Linked DNA regions of Homo sapiens: region 2 is linked to region 1. Evidence: fine-mapped expression QTL. Tissue or cell type: whole blood. Region 1 holds a variant in brackets; the other region holds the start of a gene. All regions are shown on one strand. Distances are from middle to middle.

The links. PIP is the estimated chance that this variant, and not a neighbour inherited with it, causes the effect.
Region 2: JAK2 starts here. The variant in region 1 is fine-mapped to the expression of JAK2 in whole blood (TOPMed, PIP above 0.99).

What each region holds. Positions count from the first base shown.
Region 1 is chr9:5,074,311-5,082,310 of GRCh38, forward strand. It overlaps JAK2 (Janus kinase 2), which reads left to right. Exons shown (of 25, transcript NM_004972.4): 15 at 3,143-3,270; 16 at 3,996-4,134; 17 at 5,919-6,070; 18 at 6,223-6,373; 19 at 7,415-7,551. It also overlaps a transcript of INSL6 not described here. Among named protein-coding and RNA genes, the nearest start is that of JAK2, 93 kb to the left of the region's middle. The variant G/T (reference allele first, on the strand shown) is at 4,846.
Region 2 is chr9:4,980,600-4,988,742 of GRCh38, forward strand. It overlaps JAK2 (Janus kinase 2), which reads left to right and starts at 4,673. Exons shown (of 25, transcript NM_004972.4): 1 at 4,673-5,031; 2 at 5,341-5,423. RefSeq lists silencers at 2,626-2,755, 4,206-4,255, 4,296-4,375, 4,766-5,095 and enhancers at 3,724-4,557, 4,486-4,625, 5,426-5,475.

The sequences.
Region 1 (8,000 bases):
CTTTATTGTGCTTCTTAGATATTGTATTTTTTACATATTGAAGGTTTACGGCAACCCAGTGTCTAGCAACTCTGTCAGCAACATTTTCCCAACAGCATGTGCTCATTTCATGTCTCTGTGTCATATTTTGGTAATTCTAGCAACATTTCAAACTTTAAAAAAATCATATGGTGATCTGTGATCAGTAATCTTTAATGCTAGTATTGTAATTATTCTGGGGTGTCCCAAACAGAGAGAATATAAGAAGGCAAACTTCATAGATGAATGCAGTGTGTGCTCTGACTGCTCCATCAATGAGCCATTCCTCTGTCTCTCTCCCTCTCCTGGGGCCTCCCTATTCCCTGAGACAACAATATTAAAATTAGGCCATTTAATAATCACACAATGGTCTTTAAATGTTCAAGTGAAAGGAAGATTCACCCGTCTCTCACTTTAAATGGAAAGCTAGAAATGAAGCAGCAAACGCTGATGTGGAAGCTGCAGCAGTTATCCAGAAGATCTAGCAAAGACCATTGATGAAGATGGCTTAGAGAGGAAGGCATGCTGAAAGCCAAGACAAGCTGAAAGCTAGGCCTCTTGCACTAAAAAGGCAAGTTATGAATCCAAAGGAAAAGTCCTTGAAGGAAACTGAAAGTGCTACTCCTGTGAGCACATAAATTACAAGAAAGTGAAACAGTCTTATTGATGATACAGAGAAAGTTCTAGATAGAAGATCAAACCAGTCACAACATTCCCTTGAGCCAAAGCCCAATCTAGAGCAAGATCTTAATGCTCTTAAATTCTATGAAGGCTGAGAGAGGTGAGGAAGCTGCAGAAGAAAAGTTGGAAGCTAGCAGAGGTTGGTTCATGAGGTTTAAGAAAAGAAGCCATGTGCACAGCATAAGTGCAAGGTGAAGCAGCAAATGCTGATGTGGAAGCTACAGCAAGTTATCCAGAAGATCTAGCAAGGACCATTGATGAAGATGGTGACACTAACAAACAGATTTTCAAATGTAAACAAAACAGCCTTCTGTTGGAAGAATATGCCATCTAGGACTTCCACAGCTAGAGAGGAGAAGTCAGTGCTTGCCTTCAAAGCTTCGAAGGACAGGCTGACCCTCTTGCTAAGGGCCAATGCCATTGGTGATTTGAAATTCAAACCAGCGCTCATTTACCATTCCAAAAATCCCAGGGCTCTGCGAATTATGCTAAGTCTACTCTGCCTGTGCTCTATACATGGAACAAGAAAGCCTAGATGACAGCACATCTGTTTATAGCATGGTTTATTGACTATTTTAAGCCCATTGTTGAGACCTGCTCAGAAAAAAAGATTGCTTTCAAAGTATTACTGATCATTGACAATGCACCTGGTCACCCAAGAGCTCTGATGGAGATGTACAAGGATATTCATGTTATTTTCAGGCCTGGTGACACAACATCCATTCTGTAGCCCATGGATCAAGGAGTTATTTCAACTTTCAAGTCTTATTATCTAAGAAATACATTTTGTAAGGCTAAGCTGCCATAGATAGTGATTCCTCTGGTGGATCTGGGTAAAGTAAGTAGAAAAACTTATGGAAAGGATTCACCATTCTAGATGCCAGGAATAGCATTCATGGTTCATGGAAGGAGATCAAAATGGCAGCATTAATAGGAATTTGGAAAAAGTTCATTCTAACCCTCCTGGATGACTTTGAGGGATATGGTACTTTAATGAAGGAAGTCACTGCAGAGATGGTGGAAACAGAGAACTAAGAAGTGGAGCTTGAAGATGTGACTCAATTGCTACAATCTCACGATAAGCCCTGAAAGAAGGAGGAGTTGCTTCTTATGGATAAGCAGAGAAAGTGGTTTCTTAAGATGGAATCTACTCCTAGTGATGATGCTGTGAACATTGTGAAATGACAACAAAGGGTTTGGAATTTTACATAAACTTGATTGATCAAGCAGTTGCAGGGTTTGAGAGGACTGACCCTGTAAAGTTCTACTGTGGGTAGAAGGCTATCAAACAGCATTGCATGCTACAGAGAAATCTTTCATGAAAGGAAGAGTCTGCAGTGAATTTCATTGTTGTCTTATTTTAAGAAACTGCCACAGCTACCTGAACTTTAAGCAGCCACCACCATGATCAGTCAGCAGCGATTAACATCAAGCAAAAAGATTACAACTTTCTGAAGGCTCAGATTATCATTAGCACCTTTTTTGGCAATAAAGTATTTTTAAAAAGATATATTCTTTGTTTTTTTTAAGATATAACGCTGTTGCACACTAAATAGACTCCATTATAGTGTATATACAAGTTTTATATGCATTGGGATACCAAGAAATTCATGACTTGCTTTATTATGGTAGTCTAAAACCAAACTGGTAATATCTTCGAGGTATGCCTTTATTTTAGTGCCTCACAAAGTTTACATTCAAGAAAATTGTTTATATAATTCCCTATTTTCCACTAGTAATGCAGATTAAATACACATCTACACTTGTATGACATTTTTTCATATCTTTGAAAATTGATAATCTTCTCAAAAGCAGTGGTTTGGAACCTGTTATATGGAGGTATCTGAGAGGCTCCTGTGGACCATGAAGGAATCCAGGATTGTTTTTGGAAGCCAACACTTGTTTTTCTGGCAAAATATGTTTTATATATTTTTTTAAAAAAGTTTTAAAGATAAAGCAGCGCAAAACATTTCTGTATTTTTTGCAGAATTAAAAGATTAAATGGAGCTAGAACTCAAATTCTCCTTTATGTCTATAGTACTATAGACAATTGTTAGTAATTTTTGTGTGTAGAAGAACTTCAGGAAGGTTTGAATGTCTAAAAAGTTATGTGGAAGAGAAATTGAGAAATTTTCATTTATTTTTAAAAACCAGCCATAATTCAGTACTAATATATAAAGGTGTGCTGGTATATTATATATTATACATTTATGTTATATATAATAATATATAATTGTTTAGACTCCTACTCTTGCTGTTGTAAGTAAACTAAAAACCAAAAATATAATGCTGTGTATCCATTAAGTTTTCTTTAAAGTTGTGAGTTTTGCCAATTTAATTTCTTTACCTATAATGGTCACATGTAAGTATAAAGATTTAAATTACATATATTTAATTATATTTATACTTAAGCCTTATTATTATTACTTATATTTTAATGCAGATATTCTGGTTCAGGAGTTTGTAAAATTTGGATCACTAGATACATATCTGAAAAAGAATAAAAATTGTATAAATATATTATGGAAACTTGAAGTTGCTAAACAGTTGGCATGGGCCATGCATTTTCTAGTAAGTAGTACAACCTTTTTATCAAAAGATACTATTTTATTTTATAAAACAATATACAAATTATCTTTACCTGGAAACAAAAAATAAATCTGTAATTGGATGCCAATTCATGTAAAATAGTCTGTGTTAGGTGATAAAAAGAGATTACTTTAGGCATATGTTTATGTATGTAAAATCACTTTTGAAAAAAAAGTTTTGTCATCCCATCAATATCTTAGAACTACTAATAGACAATCTGTATGTTGTGTCTTTTGGATTTAGAAAATTCAACCAAAAATTATGCAGAAGTATGTGCTTCTGTATTTTTGGGCCATTGTACATTATGGTCCATGAGAAAGCGGTGTTGACAGAGAAGAATACCAGGGGGACTGCCAGTCATCAGACCCCTCAGGGTGCACCTATGTCCTGCTGCAGAACTGAAGTAGTATTTCTTAATGTCAGCTCCCATCCAGAAACACAAACCATGTCAGCCTTAGAACTCATGTGAAATGGCATTGGTAGTTTTAATTTATTCATTTCATCACAAGCATAGATTATTGTGTTATTTAAAATGTAAAACAGGAAGCATAGGAGTCATAAATTTCCTTTTTTCTCAATGCATGCCTCCAAATTATTATACTATCATGTATTTTTCTTCTTTAAATCTGTTTTGGGGGCTTGAACATACTAAATGCTCCAGTACTTGTGGACTGATATTTGAATATATGTGCGTTTAACTCTAATAGGAAGAAAACACCCTTATTCATGGGAATGTATGTGCCAAAAATATTCTGCTTATCAGAGAAGAAGACAGGAAGACAGGAAATCCTCCTTTCATCAAACTTAGTGATCCTGGCATTAGTATTACAGTTTTGCCAAAGGACAGTAAGTTCTAGAAGGATTATATATAATGTTACTAAGCTTTACTTGGGCAGTGGTGTAAAGGGCATGTTGTTAATTTTCCTTGAATTCCATTTAATTTGTATGTTCCTGATTAATAATAAAATTATCACTTTTAGCAATTTAAATTGTTAGTTAAATCTTAGTCTCTATTTTTCTTTCTTATAAGCATATAACCATGGACTGTGAGGTGATTTTTTAAAAACAGTTTTAATCTCTAATTATGTATGAAGGATAGGATTTTATCCATTTTTAGTATGAAGTTTTGTAATATTCCTTGAGCCACAAGTAAATTTTCTAAATATTCTTTTCTTCTCGTCACTAAATAAAAATTTAGCCTGAGATTTTAGGATTTTTTTCTATCCTCTGTGAAGAAATTAGTTTAATTATCCAGCTAATTCTGACTTTTTAAAACCTTAAAAAAACTTTGATTTGTGTTTGTTCATCTTTACTACTTAACACAGTGGGTTAAAAATACAAATTTCAGTCAGATAGTTGAGAGGGGTTTTTTGGGTCTAGATAATTATAACTGAATTTTGTTATCTTAGATAATTTCTCTAATTGGATGTTCTAAATTTAGATTCTAAATTGATCAATTTTTGTGCACTGATGTGTCCTATTTAAGCTAATAGTACTTAAACTTAATGACTTATCTGACAGTGAAGACAGTGATAACTGGGCAGTAGTACAGGAGTA[G/T]GGAGTATGGCAGAAAATTCTTACAGGGTCTTACATCTGGTATCCTGGAAAATTTTATCCTTTGGAATCGGAAGTGAAGATGGAAAAAAATGTATTCATATGGTGAAGGTATTTGTCAATCAATCTATTTGTCTGTCTGTCTATGTCAGAATACCAGAAAGTAGGGTTATATTGCTTCTTCCTTTCTTGAATACAGTCCTTCTGGTGGAATCAAAGACCACAGAAACTTTACTTGAGAAATTCCGTGATTTGAGCAGAGCCCACCTATATCAATTCCATATATCTAGAATATTTTGGTGCAATTTAGCCTTCCATCTGCCATAAATGCTTGTTGGTCCTTGGGTTTTTTTTTTTATCTGCAAGTGGGAATTGCCATGGCTATTAAATCATTAGAACATCTCTGAATGATGTAACATTACCTTTACTACTTACGCATTATGAAGAAATACCAAAAAGTATCATGGGGCAATTTTAGGATAAACTATATAAAAAAAAAAGATTTGGCCAGGTGCAGTGGCTCATGCCTGTAATTCCAATGCTTTGGGAGGCTGATTGCTTCCTAAAGCGCTTGGGTGGATCACTTAAGCCCAAGAGGTCAAAGCATAGTGAGCTGCAATCGTGCCATTGCACTCTAGCCTGAGTGACACAGTGACACCCTGTCTCAAAAAAAAAATTTTTTTTTTTTGAAGGTAAAACTAATGGAAAGAGGTTGAGAAAATGGTATGCCAGTTGAGACACTATGGTTTAATGGAAAGATTAGTTGATTCAGAACTCACTGTACAGGATTCTAATTCTGTCTCTGCTGCTAACAAATTGTGTGGCTTTGGGCAGATTACTCAATCATATGTCTCCATGTTGTCATTGTTAAAGATGAAATATTGAATTAGATGATCTTGAAGGTCCCTTCTGGTTCTTAAGCTTATGCAGTCATGTGCATGTGCACATCCAACCCCTCCAAAATAAAGAAAATAGGCCTGATTATTCAAATGATTTGAACTTTAAAGCTATTTACATATAAAAGATTGGTTTACTTGTGAATTATTTAACCCTACTCTGTTCGTATCATTTAAAAGTTCTTCAGGAGAGAATACCATGGGTACCACCTGAATGCATTGAAAATCCTAAAAATTTAAATTTGGCAACAGACAAATGGAGTTTTGGTACCACTTTGTGGGAAATCTGCAGTGGAGGAGATAAACCTCTAAGTGCTCTGGATTCTCAAAGAGTAAGTTTATATAGACTAAGTTAGAATTACTCTATCTCTGAACTTTCATATTTCTTTCACATGATTTGTATTTTTTAGCCCATCTAATTTTAAAAAGAAGGTTGGTGTGGCATTACACAATTTATTCTCAGTTTGTGGTTCTTTAATTATAGAAGCTACAATTTTATGAAGATAGGCATCAGCTTCCTGCACCAAAGTGGGCAGAATTAGCAAACCTTATAAATAATTGTATGGATTATGAACCAGATTTCAGGCCTTCTTTCAGAGCCATCATACGAGATCTTAACAGTTTGTTTACTCCAGGTATGTATTTGAATGATCTTATTGATTTTCCAGCTTTCTATCTTTATTGTATTTAATGAATCATTACTAATTTTTAATTCCTTTAAAACATTTTCTTGATGTCATTTGGGCCCTCTTAATTTCTTATGTTCATATGGCTTTTCATGCTTTATACATATTCTAATCTCCTTGACTGAGAATTATTTTCATTTTTATAAAAAGACCTTTTCTTTTTTTTTTTTTTTTTTTTTGAGATGGAGTCTTACTCTGTCGCCCAGGCTGGAGTGCAGTGGCGCGATCTCGGCTCACTGCAAGCTCCACCTCCAAGGTTCACGCCATTCTCCTGCCTCAGCCTCCTGAGTAGCTGGGACTACAGGCGCCCGCCACCACACCCGGCTAATTTTTTGTATTTTTAGTAGAGACGGGGTTTCACCGTGTTAGCCAGGATGGTCTCGATCTCCTGATCTTGTGATCCGCCCGCCTCGGCCTCCCAAAGTGCTGGGATTACAGGCTTGAGCCACCGCTCCCAGCCAAAAAGACCTTTTCTTTCAGTAACCTAATTTTAGTTTTCCATTTAGTGAGTTGTAAATTATAGTATTTTTTTTTTGCTTAAATTGACTTTTAAAAAACAATTCTCTTTAACATTTCTCATATTTTATAATTGATTGATTCTCTAAACATGAGCTGTATTTGTTTTGCTTTGTTCTCTCCTTTTTCAAAATACTGAGCTGAAATGCATGTGTTTGACCTATAGGTGCTTTCTACCCCAGTACTACTCACCTTTCTCACAATAAGTATCAGTATATTACCTTACTTTATGAATACTAAAACTTCTTATTTTGGAAAACAAAATTTTATCCTTTGCAAAGTCTCTCTTGAAGGCCTGTCAGATTATGGGTAATGATTAAAGGCTCCCATTAATATAATTGAAACTATTTGAGTTTCCCTGTATCATTTAGTATTTTTAACTCACGATTATTTTGGTCAACTTGAATGTATATCAGTTTAGTCCAGAGAATGTTATTTGCTAATTTAAGGTGATAATATTCTTTATTTCTCCAGATTATGAACTATTAACAGAAAATGACATGTTACCAAATATGAGGATAGGTGCCCTGGGGTTTTCTGGTGCCTTTGAAGACCGGGATCCTACACAGTTTGAAGAGAGACATTTGAAATTTCTACAGCAACTTGGCAAGGTAAATTGTCAGAATTTTTTCAAATAGAGTATAATCATTTCATTTAGGAAAAACTTAAGAGCGTTTCTAAAGTTCACTTTCTACAACATTTTAAGGAGTGCTTGTAGAAAAAAAAGGTTTGGTTGTCAGATGTTGGAGAAATGCTGTGTTAAATAAACAGCTATCTTTACTGAATGAAGGGGGCCAGCCCCTCCACACCTGTGGGTAATTCTCGTCAGGTGGGACCAGAGACTGAGAAAAGAAAGAAGACACAGAGACAAAAGTATAGAGAAAGAAAAGTGGGCCCAGGGGACCAGTGCTCAGCATATGGAGGACCCGCACCAACACTGGTCTCTGAGTTTCCTCAGTATTTATTACTGTTTTCACTATCTCAGCAAGAGGAATGCGGCAGGAGAGCAGGGTGATAGTGGGGAGAAGGTCAGCAAGAAAACATGTGAGGAAAGGAATCT
Region 2 (8,143 bases), 94 kb before region 1:
GAATGAAGATGGTAACCTCATAGTGGCAGCCTTAACTTTAGAGCATGGGTAACCTCATTTCAAGTGAACAGAAAAGTCTGATTTGCTGTTTTTGAATCCCAACTCCAAATTCCCCAGGAGTGAGACTCTGATGGCTCAGCTTGGTCCAATCAAGGGGTTGTGGGAAGCAGGGTGTCACAAACTAGAACGTAGGTGCCAGAGGCTGGCTACTCTGGGTGAAGAGGACAGTTCTCAGCAAAGAGGACAGAATCCTTAGTCTAAATTAGGACTCAGGAATTAAGTCTCTGAGTCTCTGTAAACTAACAATTATGCTAGGGATTTATTTTTATTTTTTATTTTATTTTATTTTATTTTTTGAGATGGGAGTCTTGCTCTGTTGCCCAGGCTGGAGTGCAGTAGCATGATCTCGGCTCACTGCAACCTCCACCTCCCAGGTTCAAGTGAATCTCCTGCCGCAGCCTCCTGAGTAGCTGGGACTATAGGCACATGCCACCATGCCTGGCTAATTTTTTGTATTTTTAGTAGAGACAGGGTTTCACCATGTTAGCCAGGAGATCTTGATCTCCTGACCTTGTGATCCACCCACGCTGGACTCCCAAAGTGCTGGGATTACAGGTGTGAGCCACTGCGCCTGGCCGAAATTTTGTTTTTAAGAGTGAATGCTGGCATGAATCCTTTCACACACACAAAAAATGTTTTTCGTGAATAGGCAACTATATGTCTAACAGTTTTAAGTTAAATTTTTTAAAAGTAGCACATAGTTATAATGGTCATTTTACATATTTTGCCAAATAATTATCCTCACTTGAAAGAGGTTATTAATTCTTGGCTTACAAAGGGAAAACTGTTTTGGTTTTCAAGCACCAAAGTTTAATACATCCAGTTATCTCAAGGGAATGAGGGATCTGTTCACTGGCAATATCTTTTTTGTTTTCCTTTTCTTTTTGTGATTGAAAGTAAGGATAAGGGAACTGATGTAGAGACAAGGACATGCTGAAGTACCGAGGAGGTATTGGAAAATTTCTTTGCCATAGCCAACCAAATTTTGGAATAAATGGTACTAAAATATCTGGATGATTTGTAGTAAAAAAAACATTGCTTGCTTGTCTGTCTACTTGATTAATACCCCTTGCCTTTGTCTTTTGGCTTATAATCCTACATTTGGAATAAATAAGCCTCTTTCCATATTTTATTCCTTTCTGCCTTCAGGAAAGTACATCTTCCCTGTTTTGGAAAGAAACAAACTAACTCCTGGACTTCTCCCCAGCCCTTCGTTTGAGCCTGTTTCCCTTTCCAAGGACTTTCCTGCATCTTTTTTTGTGCTCACATTTATGTCCCTCCTTAAGAATGATGTTTTCAGTCTCATCATTTAATGATATAGTTCTGTTTTTTAAAATTCAAATGGAGATCTTCACATTTATCTCTATTACAACTCAGCCCTTATCCTACCAGCCCACACAGTCCTGTGTAGTGCAATAAACTGTGACAAATACTTCAATCTTCCTAATAAAATTCAACAAATTTCTTATACCTCCCAGCTTGGTTATATCTGTAAATTGGTCCTGCCACAGATATAATAGACATTTGATAACTGTGCTAAGGGTTTTAAAATACTTTTTCACCTAATCTTCAAAATCTCTCTACAGGGGAGATTATTATCCTCATTATACTGATGAGGAAACAGAGGCTTAGAAAATCTAAATAAACTTTCCTGGCAAAAGCTGTGATTGAAAGAAACCTGGGTGGTCTGGACTCTTAAAGCGTAAGTTCTTAAACCCTTGGCCATGGATTTTCAACCGTGGCTTTATGTCAAACCACCTAAAAATGTTAAAAAGTTATAGAAGCCAATGCGCCATCTCACACTTACTGAGGCAGTCTTGTTGGGGTGGGGGGAAGGTTTGGGCATAGCAGTCAAGAATCACTGCTGCCATGCTGGCCAACACTGGAAGGACAAAACCTCAAGACACTACACACAGCCCCACAGTCAACAACTAGCTGTTAAGTTTTCCCATTAGATCTTGCCACAAAGTTTTGAATCTAAATGTGTTACCTTACAGCTCATATTTCTTGTTTCTTCATATTGTATGAATGTTTTGAAAGACTTGGTCAAATTCCTTGGAATTCTTTTCATCATTATCAAAGAATAAGGGAAATTTCCTGAAATGTTTGCCTTGAGTAGCAAATTTCTAGTGATGCCACTACCAGGAATCACATAAAGAGCTCAAAAGTTCTGTTAATACAGAGTGAAAAAAGCTCAACATTCCAGGTTAGCATTGACTTAAAATCATGTCTTAGTGATGAGGGAGGCTTTCACTTTCTGAATGACAGGAGGCAAGTTGCTTCATCTTTCTATGTGGGGAGACAGAAGATTTCTCAATTCTATAGGCTTATGAATAATATACCCCTTGTCCACCTTGTCTTCCATACCCACATCTCTAATATTAAGAAAATAACCTGCTCCCCCACAAAAATATCCTCAATATTCACCACTTCCAAATGGCTTCTCCCTGCAATTCACCAATTTCAAATGGCTTCTCCCTGCAAACAGGCTGTGGACAGTAAGAGATACCATGCCTAGTTACATAAGTATATCACTGCAAAATATAGAAACATCACTTATAATGAAAGTAATACTGTTTCAGAGTTCTAAAACAAGCATTTTCTTCCCCTCACAAAATATCACATTTCCATTTCCACAGTTGTGATGCTTTTCATTTACCCATGACGTTAAGCTCATCTTTAGCTCTTCTTCATTATGTGGGTCTGTGTTCTAGCTTTTACCTCAGTAGCAGTTTTTGTTTGCAGGAAAAAAGGAACTCTTTTGGTAGTCACTGTTTGTAATTGCGGCCTTGATATTCTAAGCCATTGAGTCACAATTAATAATTAGAAATTCTTACTAACTTTGCCCATATATTACCTATGAAGCAGTAGCCGTAGGAATGCAATTTTCCTGTAAATCCCTCCCTCTTATACAGCTCTAGTTCATTATTTAAAAGATTCAGGGTGAATTCAAGTAATTTCCTATGCTGCTATCATTTGCTTAAAGACCTTTTGCAATGGGTCTTATGTAAGAAGAAATGCAGGAGTTGCTTTGGTGAGGTTTATTTAAAGAAACCATTAAGTGCAAGACAGACCTGAAGAGCAGCATCAGTTGTGTATGGGGAAACAGGAGCTATGAATGCGTCACTTCATTTAGGTTGACAGAAAGAGGGCTAATACTTGAAAAAAATCCCTACACGATCTGGTGCCAGGCTACTTCTTTGGCCTCACCTCTTACCACTGCCCCCTCCTTCCGTGTCCTCCAGCCACAGTGACCTCTTTCCTGATCCTTGAACTTGCCAAACACTTTCCCTTCTCAAGGTCTTTGCCTTCAGGAGTCCCTCTGCCTGAAATTCTTTTCCCAGATAGTCATGGGACTGGTTCATTCTCATCCTTCAGATCTCTGCTCAAATGTCACTTATTCTAGGAAATCGTTCCTGGCCACCGTAAAATAGCACACCCCCTCCTCACTTTCTACTCCTTTTCTTTGTTATTATGTATATGGCAGCAGAAAACTATGCATTTTCTTAGTGGCAATTACACACCCCGCACATTATGCATTTAAAGCGTTGTTTGTTGTTTTGTCGCTTCCATCAGAATACAATCCAGTAGGGCAAGGAGTGTGTGGGGTCGTGTTCACCTGGTATCTCTGGGGACCTACAGCCCGGCACCTAGTAGACACTCAGTAAATATTTGAATGAATGAATGAGGCCCTTTGGCAGCCGGGAAGCCCGTCACAGCCGTTGTCTCCACCCTCTCCCGGGCTACACCAGGCCACGCCGGTAAAGTTGTTTCTCCTCTAGGAGAAACATTCGCTAGGCCTTGTTGCCAACCCGCAGGCGGCTGGGCGCTTCATCCCACCCTCACCCCTTTCCAGCCAAGGTGGCTGATGGGAGTCAGGCTCTCGAGGGCGCATTGCCACGAAACAGCGTGTGTGAGCGCGTTGTCCCCGGCCCCCGGCGCCACTTCCCCTCGGCCTAGCAGCCTGGACTGGGGAAGGACGGGTCTGCTGTACCCGGGAGGTGGAAGGAAAAGCCGAAAGCGGAGAAGTGTGCGGGAGGGGAGTCTCCGCGCGGAGGCAGCCCGGCCTCCTCCAGTGCAGGCTGCGCGCTGGGGAGCCAGCCAGGGTGAGTCACTCCCGGCCGCTTCCCTGGAGGGCGGCGGCCACACACACACCCGCCCATCTAGTGAGGGCCGGGCCCAGCGCTGGCGCCTAGCTCCAGCCGGGCACCAGCGTTTCGCGAGGCGCCGCCGCCTTAACTTCCTTGCGCGCTCACGCCCAGGGGCCGTCCCAGGAATCTCCACGCGCGCTCGCCGGCTTCCCGAGAGGCAGCTGCCCTGCGTGGCCCGCGCCTGCCGGTCCCGCGACCAGCACCGAGCGGCGCACGCGCACTGCAGGACGCGCGTCCGGCTCTCCCCCAGCCTCTATCCGGCCCGGTCTCCTGCCATTCGGGGAGACTGCAGGCCAACCGGGAGGCTGAGTTCGAAGCTAGCAGGGCGGCGAAGCCAGTGTCGCCCGCGGCGTTGAGAAGACGGTGTGGCCCCGGAGAGGGTGGAGACAACTGTGACGGGCTTCCCGGCTGCCCGAAGTGGGAGTGGTGTGGGGCTGCAGGAAGGAGAGAGGAAGAGGAGCAGAAGGGGGCAGCAGCGGACGCCGCTAACGGCCTCCCTCGGCGCTGACAGGCTGGGCCGGCGCCCGGCTCGCTTGGGTGTTCGCGTCGCCACTTCGGCTTCTCGGCCGGTCGGGCCCCTCGGCCCGGGCTTGCGGCGCGCGTCGGGGCTGAGGGCTGCTGCGGCGCAGGGAGAGGCCTGGTCCTCGCTGCCGAGGGATGTGAGTGGGAGCTGAGCCCACACTGGAGGGCCCCCGAGGGCCCAGCCTGGAGGTCGTTCAGAGCCGTGCCCGTCCCGGGGCTTCGCAGACCTTGACCCGCCGGGTAGGAGCCGCCCCTGCGGGCTCGAGGGCGCGCTCTGGTCGCCCGATCTGTGTAGCCGGTGGGTGTTATCTCTGCCTGGCTTCTGGGTGGGGGGCAGCAGCTGTCTCTCCACCCCCTTCCTACCTTTTGGTCCCGCCTGCCCCCTGCTAGTGGCAGCAAACTTCTGAGCCAGAAAAATCTTCCTCTTTAAGACGACACCTAGAACGAGTCTTGCTGGTGATATTTGCTTCCATTTGTGTCTTATAATTCCCTCGCTCCCGCCTCCTTATTCCTTTTTAAAATTTTCTAGACACTTAAACAGCCTAGAAAAAGCATTTGTTTCCCCTGGATTTATGTGGTAGTAGTTAACTGCTGCTTCTGTTTTTAGGTTTCAGAAGCAGGCAACAGGAACAAGATGTGAACTGTTTCTCTTCTGCAGAAAAAGAGGCTCTTCCTCCTCCTCCCGCGACGGTGGGTGTGCTGTCCTTTATCGCTGCAGTAAAGGCGAAGGTGTCTGGAGCTGGGAGTGCGTGCGTAGGGAAGGTTGGAAGCGTGTGAAGAGAGGCAGGGCTCATTGTTGCTTACTCTTCTGAAAATGTCAGTGCTAAACTTTTAATGTTGATCTGGGAGAGTAATTTTGGGGTGTTTTGTTGTTCGTCTTGGATCCTTTAAGAAACATTTTTTTGTTGGCTTTACACATAACGTGACTTTGCAGAGAAACGAAAAACGTTGTCCATTACCCTTTCTTCTTAAGCAGCCAGAGATTCTTAATCCTTTAAAGAGGAGTATTTCCAAGCAATAAGAGATAGCTTTTGGGAGAACACGTTAGCTATTCTTGCTGGGGTTTCTGCTACCACATTGAATGTTTCCTCATGGTTTTATCTGCCTAAGCTTGCTGTGTCGGTTGAATTTACCCAGTTTGTTTTCCAGTAATTACTAATCTGTTAGGAGAAACTCCATTTCTCTGAATGAAAGGGTAGGAGCGGCTGAGTATGGAGAAGGAAACTGGAAGTGGGAATAAGGGAAATGATTGCTTTTGGTTTCATAATAAGTTTGTACAGTGAGTTGTTGGGCTACTGCAAATAAAGATTTTGTATCCCTTCTCCAGAATGCTTGGGACCAAAAGTGTTTTGGATTTTTTTTAAAAATTTTGGAATGTTTGCATATACAAAATCAGACATCTTGAGGATGGGACCCAAGTGTAAATACGAAATTCGTTTGTTTCATATAGACCTTATTCACACAGCCACTAAGTCATTTGCAATATTTTTAATACGTCTGTGCATGAAACAAAGTTTGTATTAAGTACCTATGCGGGGAATTTTCCCCTTGTAGCATCATGTTGGTGCTCAAAATGTTTCAGATTTTGCAGCTTTTCAGATAAGGGATGATCAGCTTGTATTTTGATATAACACCCAGAACATTTGAAGATGAATAATCAATTTTTGGCCTCCCTTCCCCCATCCGCCTCACCTTATACCACTTTAAGTGTGAGAATTATTTGCTTGTACATGCATTTGTCTGTTGGTGTGTAACGTATGTACAGACTGGATGTATCCAGCACTTGCCTTAATAGTACATGTATTTACCTGAATAGGAAAGCTGCAGTACTTGCTGGCCAGAAGAGCACACCATGCTTGTTTTTGCTCTAACTGAATATCCTGTATTTGCAATTTATAGCAGTTTTAGGGACTCATTAGGGAATTTTGTGTGTGTGTGCCTTTGGTGATTTGAGACAGGTGTCTCAGATATGGGAAGGGAATATGACATTGTTTCTCTTTCACCTGGCTATTACTGAAAGGTGGGATGCTTTTGAGGCAGAATAGGAAAGTGCATTGGCTTTGGAGTGAGATCTGGATTTGAATCCTGGTGTTCTTGCCACTTAAGAGTTGCATTATTTACGGCTGGTCATGGTGGCTCACGCCTGTAATCCCAGCACTTTGGGAGGCTGAGGAAGGAGGATCACTTGAGGTGAGGAGCTTGAGACCAGCCTGGCCAACATGGTGAAACCCCATCTCTACTAAAAATACAAAAATTAGCCGGGCGTGGTGGTGCACACCTGTAATCCCAGCTACTCGGGAGGGTGAGGCAGGAGAATTGCTTGAACCTGGGAAGTGGTGGTTGCAGTGAGCCGAGATCTCACCACTGCACTCCAGGCTGGGCAACACAGCAAGACTCTGTCTAAAAAAAAAAAAAAAAAGAAAGAAAAAAAGAGTTATATTATTTACGACTCTTTTAGCTTCACTTTCTTATAAGATTGTTGTGAGAAGTGAGTAAGACACATGCAAAGTGGTAAACTGCCTGGCTGTCATAAAAGTCTTGGCTACTATCACGGCTGGGAGGCAAAGGAGATTCAGAGAAGGGCAGAATGACTGCATAAGGTGATCTGCCTGTAACTCGTGTTTCCTCCTTTCTAGTATAAAGAGATAAAGGACTTCAAGGTCTTAAACTGGTGAGGGAGTATTACAGCCTTTGTATGGAAAGGTTTGACTTTGTGTCTCTGCTTAAACCCCCATTGTGTTGCCCCTACCAATTATTGTGCTGCCCCCTTGTGGTTAACTGTGCTAAGACCTTTCTTTTGCTCTTCTCCCATTACATTTCCCACCCTTCCCCACTCCCTTTTAGACCCCTCCTCTTAGCTCCCAGTTTCCCAAACTGTGTGCCAAGGTGCCCAGAGCACCTCAGGCTTGAACTTGTGTTTTGAGTTGGTTCATGGTTTCAATATTAGATACCTACACCCGTTTCTACAATGTCATGTCTTTGTAAAGATGTATTTTCAGAGGTTGCTCCGATAAAAAGCAACTACTACATGAAAATGAATGTAGAACAGGAAATGACAGTGTGGTATTGTCCAATTTGATTCTAAGGTTTGATAAGTTCTACAGTGCTCTACACTAAGTTGTAAGGACATAACTACTAAGTAAGTTGTTCAAACCTATTTCTTTTGGCCTGGGGGTGTCGTGAAAAATTTGCTAAGACTCAGAGCTCCCTGAATGGGTTTGGAAACCTCTGCCTTAGCTTTTAGTTTGCTTTTCTGATAAAATTATTGATATAAAGCTAGTACCAGCTGATCATGGCTTAATATATTTCCTCTCCTATGTAATATGTTTATAACTTCTGCCCAGTTCTTTCATTTTAAAACTAATCCTATTGCTAACTTGTTGTACTAGTCACTTCCTGGTTTTTCCTGT